2 linked regions of the Homo sapiens genome follow. Changing the gene in region 1 together with any one later gene gives a genetic interaction. Each region holds a gene or a part of one and is shown on either strand. Other genes may lie near its edges.

What was found.
Region 2: changes in RBM20 (region 1) and SPPL3 together harm fitness less than expected from each alone (positive genetic interaction), as found in Homo sapiens cells (one large-scale study listed by BioGRID).

What each region holds. Positions count from the first base shown.
Region 1 is NC_000010.11:110,815,224-110,818,874, forward strand, and holds part of RBM20 (RNA-binding protein 20), read left to right. Parts: intron 1-3,651. UniProt on the Homo sapiens protein: RNA-binding protein that acts as a regulator of mRNA splicing of a subset of genes encoding key structural proteins involved in cardiac development, such as TTN (Titin), CACNA1C, CAMK2D or PDLIM5/ENH.
Region 2 is NC_000012.12:120,765,185-120,768,509, reverse strand, and holds part of SPPL3 (signal peptide peptidase-like 3), read left to right. Parts: intron 1-21; coding exon 22-185; intron 186-916; coding exon 917-1,116; intron 1,117-2,137; coding exon 2,138-2,247; intron 2,248-3,325.

The DNA.
Region 1 (3,651 bases):
TTCAAGATAATGAAAGGTGCAGACTTCTATAGAATCAGATGCCCTGAAAGGATGTGCTAGACAAATGCCCAGCGTTCCAGTGAAAGGACACCCAGTAGTCTTTTTTTGCCCATTACAAAGTCTGCCACGATTTTTCCTAACTGGCATAGCAGGAGGAAGAACAGGAGATGAGATTAGGGAAGAGGGTGAGACTCATGGAAGACACTGTGTGCCTCACCAAGGACTTGAACTGGATCCCAAGGACCTGGTGAACCAGTGGATATTTTAAAAAGTGTATGTGCTTGGAGGTGTCCAAGTTGCTGGTGATGGATGATGGGCAGAGAGCAAGAGTTGGCAGGGGCTCAAGGAAAGCCTGGGCTTCATGTGGATACCACCAGCCTGCCAACCCTCTCTCCCCCAAGGCTGAGAGGTGGAGCTGCTTCCTGCACTTCTACTCACACTCCTGAGACTCTGCCCTGGGAACCTCATTTCTTCTACTGTTTTACCACCCTGCTCTCATCGGTTTGTATAACATTGCTCATTTAAGGTGACACTATGTGTCAGCCAAAGAGCCCCTGATGGAAAAAGAATCTCAGAAAGCCCCAAGAATTTCCCCACAGTTCTGTCCCTCAAGTTGGTTCTGCCTCTTACAACCCTGGAGTGGGGTCAGTAGGGACTTACTGGGGCCCCTCACAGATTGTGTCTTTAGGTTTGGAGCCAGGCAGTCCAACAGTGTGTGTTGGAATGACTGCAGAACAGAGAGTATTTTGCACTGTCCTCAAACTCTGTATGATGAACTCAAGAAAAGCCCAGACCCCACAGGGCTGCCCCTGGAGTCAGATAACAGGTGGCAACTGAACTTGGGAATGAAGGCAGCAGGGCTTGCTGTTCTTCCAGTGCACCAGGCACCTCCTGCCCTCAGCGCCTTTACAGGTGTTGCTGCTGCCGAGGAGCCACAAGTCTTCCTGGCTTGCTCCTCACCTCCTTCGTCTTTACTCATGGCCACATTCTCTACTGTCCCTGGCCACTGCACATGATTTCAACACCCCAACCTGCTCTTCTCCCTCCCACCACTGCAAACCATCTCAACACCCCACCCAACCCCCTCACCTCCCCCGACACTACTGCAGACCATCTCAACACCCCAACCCATTCCTCTCCCTCCCCACCACTGCATACCATCTCAACACCCCAACCCACTCTTCTCCCTCCCCGCCACTGCAGACCATCTCAACACCCCAACCTGCTCCCCTCCCTCTCGTCACTGCAGACCATCTCAATACCCCAACCCATTCCTCTCCCTCGCACCGCTGCAGACCACCTCAACACCTCAACCCCCTCCTCTCCCTCCCTGCTTTCCTGTTTTTGGTGGCATTTACCACCTTCAAACCTATCACTTAATGTCTTTATTTTACTTAGTGTCTATTGTCACCCCCAGCTCCAGGTGTAAACTTCACAAGGCAGGAAGTTTTGTCTGTTGTGTTCACTGCTGTGTTCCCAGTCCCTAGAGGAGGGCTTGGCACAGAGCAGGTGTCCAGTGAGTACCTGTTGAAGGTATGAAGGTTGGAACCCAGACTCTGGAAGCAAAGGCCTGGCTTCTGAGAACCAGGTCAGACCCTGCTTTCTTCTGCCTCACTTTTCTTGTTTGTAAAATGGATGTGATCACAAGGCTGTTGTAGTACTGTAAAGAGGTCATGCTCATTAAAATATCCTGAGCTCTCTGGAGAAAGTTTCTGTGGTTGAGAAGCCAGTGTGCGTGCTGCTCCGTGGTGATGGGTGGCCACGTCCATACCTGAGACCCAATCCTGGCCACAGGACCATAAAGAGGAGGAAAGAAATGAAGTCACAGATAAGGAAAACATGGGGAAGAAACACTGCTACATCCTACTGGGAGGGAGGGTTCGAGAGTGGCAGGCCCAGGTGACTAGGGAAGGGAAGCCAGGCTAATGACAAGTGGAGCCAGGCCAGCATGATGGGACCATGGCTGACTGAGAAAGTGGTGCCATCTGTGGGGCCGGAGCTACTGCTCAGCTCCATTCTACAGCTGCCATGCAGGAACGCATGCCACGCTGTCAAATCTCCCTTTTCTTAGAGCAAGACAAGTGTCTAGTATAAACCAAAACATACCTGTGGGCCAGATGCCATCTAGAAGCCCCAGAGTGTAACCCCTGGTATAACCAATCCATAAGAGGTGAAGATTTTTAAAACCCTTATGCTTCAGAGCCTAGACAAGACCCAACCATGCGGGAAGACAGGTGAGAACTTGTTATTCGCCCCACCCCCTTCTACCAATTTCATTCTTTTATTGACCAATATTTGTGGAGCACCCGGCATTGGGACTATAGTTAGTGACACTGAAATGACCCCTGGGCTCGTGGAGCTCATAGTCTAGTGAGAGAAATGCTAATCCAGTGATTTCTTAAATGAACAGAAGAGCTTGAGTATTAAGTGCTAAGAAGGAGATGAAGGTACGCAATGCTGTGAGTGCCTGTGATAAATCTGAGCCTTCTCAGGGTTAGGCTGTGCCTATTGAGATTTGGAGGCACGGTGAGTATTGACTGGGTGAAAAGGAAGTGAAAAGACAGAGGAAGCAGCATGCACAAGGGCCTCCAGCAGCTCCAGGGCTCCAGCGTTGCCGTAGCAGAGAGCTGGCATTAGAGTAACAGGAGGTGAGGCTGACTTGTCAACAGGGCCTACACTATGCAGGGCCTTGTAGGCAGGTTGAAGATTTTTGCCTTTATCTTAACTACCAGGGGAAGCAAATGAAGTATTTAAGCAAGAAAATACAGTGAAGAGGCTGGACACAGTGGCTCACGCCTGTAATTCCAGCACTTTGGGAGGCTGAGGCAGGCAGATCGCTTGAGGTCAGGAGTTCGAGACCAGCCTGGCCAACATGGTGAAACCCTGTCTCTACTAAAAATACAAAAAAAAAAAAAAAATTAGCCAGGTGTGGTGGCAGGCACCTGTAATCCCAGTTACTTGGGAGGCTGAGGCAGCAGAATTGCTTGAACCCAGGAGGCGGAGATTGCGGTGAGCCGAGATCATGCCATTGCACTCCAGCCTGGGCAACAAGAGCAAAACTCCATCTCAAAAAAAAAAAAAAAACCAAAACGACAATATGGTGAGGATGTGATCATTTTTGCATTTTGGAATGATCATTCTTGATTGCCTTGGGAAGAATAGATTTTGGGGGAAGGTACAGAGCAGAAGTGGGAGACCAGTTTCGAAGTGGTTCGGTAGCCCGGGCCCTGTGGTGGCAGAGCCCTGCTTGCAACAGTTGGCGTTTCAGTCTCAGTCTGTGAGCTGCTGTGGGCAGCTGGGGGCACCCGTTGCACCCATCTGTTCCACTTAAGCTGCTGCTCTCTCCTGGAAGTGATCCCACAGCAAAGGGAAGCTCTGAAAGGTTGTTTCCTTTGCCTGCAGGGTGGAAGAGCAGGGGTCTGCTTGGTGGAGGGCTTTCAGCCCGGCTAGCAAGACTGTCCCTGCCTCTCCCAACTCGAACTGAAGGGGGTCCCTTTACTGTGTTGATCTGGGAGTGTGGCTGCAGGAACTGCTTGGGAAGGGTAAGGATTATTCATTTTGACAAGAGAGGGCCATGGATAGGTGATTCAGGGAGATAAAAATAAAGTCACCTGTTGGTAGAAGCTATAATAGCTAAAAAGGTATTTGTAG
Region 2 (3,325 bases), on another chromosome or scaffold:
GGCATCTCTCCAACTCGGCAGGTATTTTTCTCAGCCTACATCTTCAATAGCAACGTCATGGTGAAGGTGGCCACTCAGCCGGCTGACAATCCCCTTGACGTTCTATCCCGGAAGCTCCACCTGGGGCCCAATGTTGGGCGTGATGTTCCTCGCCTGTCTCTGCCTGGAAAACTGGTCTTCCCAAGGTAAGACCTCATGCTATGACAGGACCACACTGTCTTCCTGTGCCTATCTGTTCCCGGCCTTGATCAGTCTCTAATGTCATCAGCATTCTGATCCCAACCTGGGGCCATTATCTCCATGCTGCAGAAGAGGAAATGAGGATGAGATTCTTGGCTTGCCAAGAAGGATCACTGAGTGATCCAGGCGGTGCCTTTTATTATTGATTAATGTCAGCAAACAGCCATGCCTTACTGCTGTTTCCACTGTTTAGAGTTGGCTGGAGGGAGTTAGGAGAATCTCGATCCTTTTAACTTGTAAGATATTTATAAAAATAAGTTCTAATGGTAGAATTATACAACTCCTGGTAATATAATCTTGGCAGAATGAATGTGCTGCTTTAATCTTCCACCTGTAATAGTAGCCAGGTGCTTATTTGAAGTCTCAACAGTGAATGTGTCACAAATGATGAATTGTTTGACATTTCTAGAGGAAGCAGCACTTATGCAAATCACTTCAGCAGTCACTTCCAAGGGGCTCTCCTGAAACAGGGGGGCCAAGGTGGAGACCTCTAGTGCCAGTACTGTTGCAGCTTTTTCTCTCTACACTCTTAAAACTAATGTTCCATCAGAAGAGATTTCCATCTGCCATGCAGATAAGCTCTTTGACTCCTTAAAAAGCTAACAAACTTTGCACAAAAGGAATAGAAACTGGATTGTAGAGTGTGACGTCACTAACCTGTGAAACTGCATTCCAGCTCCACTGGCAGCCACTTCTCCATGTTGGGCATCGGAGACATCGTTATGCCTGGTCTCCTACTATGCTTTGTCCTTCGCTATGACAACTACAAAAAGCAAGCCAGTGGGGACTCCTGTGGGGCCCCTGGACCTGCCAACATCTCCGGGCGCATGCAGAAGGTCTCCTACTTTCACTGCACCCTCATCGGATACTTTGTAGGTAAGAGAACCAGAGAGACTGCAGATGATCCTCGCTCTGGCTGTCCTCCAACCTTTGGAATTAAATCAGGTCTTCTAGCTACAGTTACTGGATGGAAGGAGAGCAGGAATTCTGGGTGCTGTAATAGACAGCCTGGCCCGTGAGATGCTAAGTGTTTTGTGTACTGGATAGGCCAGTTCCCTCTCCAGCTGTGTATCTGAAGAACGTTGTAGGAAAAGCAGGTCAGTCCTCAAAGCCAAGGACACACAGCACACAGTGCAGTGGATTAGTCTGTGCTTAAATCTTCCTCTAGAGTTGAATGACTGTCGTATTTATTTCCTACTTTATTCAATAGATACTTACTTACATTCATTAGTTCTACATTTCTGCCACTCTGACCTAGGCCAAGTTTTGTAGCCAGCTCATGTGTAGGCAGACAGGAGATGATTGTGATGGGGCTGGGAAAAGCAGTAACCTGCCCGCACATGCAACTGCTCCCGCACAGTGACTGGAAAGGAGCTTTTGCACTCCGTACGTCCTCCTCAACCCCAGCACTGTCCTCGTCCCACAGCAGTTCATTCACATGGGTTCATTTCAGTCCACAAACTCAGAGGGGCAAGGCAAGTGGCATTATCCCCATTAGACAGATGAGCAAGCTGAGGCTCAGAGAGGTGGAAGGTCTGAACTACATTTATGTTAGCTATTGTGAGTAGCAGAGTTGGAACTTGAACCCAGGTCTTCTGCCTCCCAAGTCCAGCATCACAGGAGACAGAGGCACACTTGGAGCTGGAAGGAGGGTTTGAACCCAGGAACCTGAGCAAGGAGTGAGACTTGGGTCAGTCATGTGTCCTTGGAGTTGTAGGTGTTTTTTAAAGCTGTGCTGATCCACATTTCTTCAACTGCCCAAGCTGGGCATTTCACACCCCAACCATAGAATGGACGACAGCACATTAGATCTGTACAGTTGCAGGACTTTGCCCAGCAGCAGCCAGGTGACACGGGTTCCCTCTCGTGTCTCACAGATGCCTCTCTCTCCTCACAGGCCTGCTCACTGCTACTGTGGCGTCTCGCATTCACCGGGCCGCCCAGCCCGCCCTTCTCTATTTGGTGCCATTTACTTTATTGCCACTCCTCACGATGGCCTATTTAAAGGTGAGAGCAGCAGTTATAAACCTGTGAAAGCAATAACTTGGATTGGCCTGTGCCTCGGTTTGCACTCTCCTCGCTGGAGGTGATTCTGCTTAAGCCCCTGAGTGAGCTTGTGATCTCGACTGTGTGTGTGTGTGTGTGTGTGTGTGTGTGTGTGTGTGTGTGCGCGCGCGCGCTACCCTGGCGTTAGCAAACGCTTCCAGATTCGTGCAGCCACTGACAGAAAATGCTGATGAGCTAGACCACTACACCACCTGGTCGAGGAATAACTAATTGAAAGCCCCAGAGCCCAGCTGAGGGTACTTCCTGCTTCTGTTCAAAGCAGTGCCCTCCTGCCACCTAACAGCTTAACACTACGTTAAAGTTTGGGAATAATTAAGATTGAATAGTGTTGAGGCAGCATATGATAAAACCAGAGTTCAAGAGCACATTATTTCCCAGATATCTATTCTCAGCCCCGTTTTACAGATGAGGAAGCAGATACAGAGGTCAACTTACTTGCCCAGCTCACTTGACTCACTACCTCTAGAGAGTTGATAAAAGCCCTTTTCTTGCTCAGGGAGCCTAAAAGCACCCCTTCTAGGGAGTCCTCCTAAAAATAGTGGGTTATTTTTGAATGGGTAAGATTTAAATGCTCTTTGGTTTCCCACAGAAGCAATCTGATCTCAGATCAAGCATCAGAAAGGGGCCAGGGGCATGGTGGCTCACGCCTGTAACCCCCGCACCTTGGGAGGCTGAGGCAGGCGGGTTAAGAGTTCAGGACCAGCCTGGCCAATATGGTGAAACCCTGTCTCTACTAAAAACACAAAAATGAACTGGGCATGGTGGTGAGTGCCTGTAATCCCAGCTACTCAGGAAGCTGAGGCAAGAGAATCGCTTGAACCCAGGAGTCGGAGGTTGCAGTGAGCTGAGATCTCGCCACTGCACTCACTCCAGCCTAGGTGACAGAGTGAGAACCCATCTCAAAAAAAAAAAATATCAGAAAGGGGCCAAGCGCAGCAGCTCATGCCTGTAATCCTAGCACTTTGGAAGGTCGAGGCAGGAGAATTGCCCGAGCCCAGGAGTTTGAGACCAGCCTGGC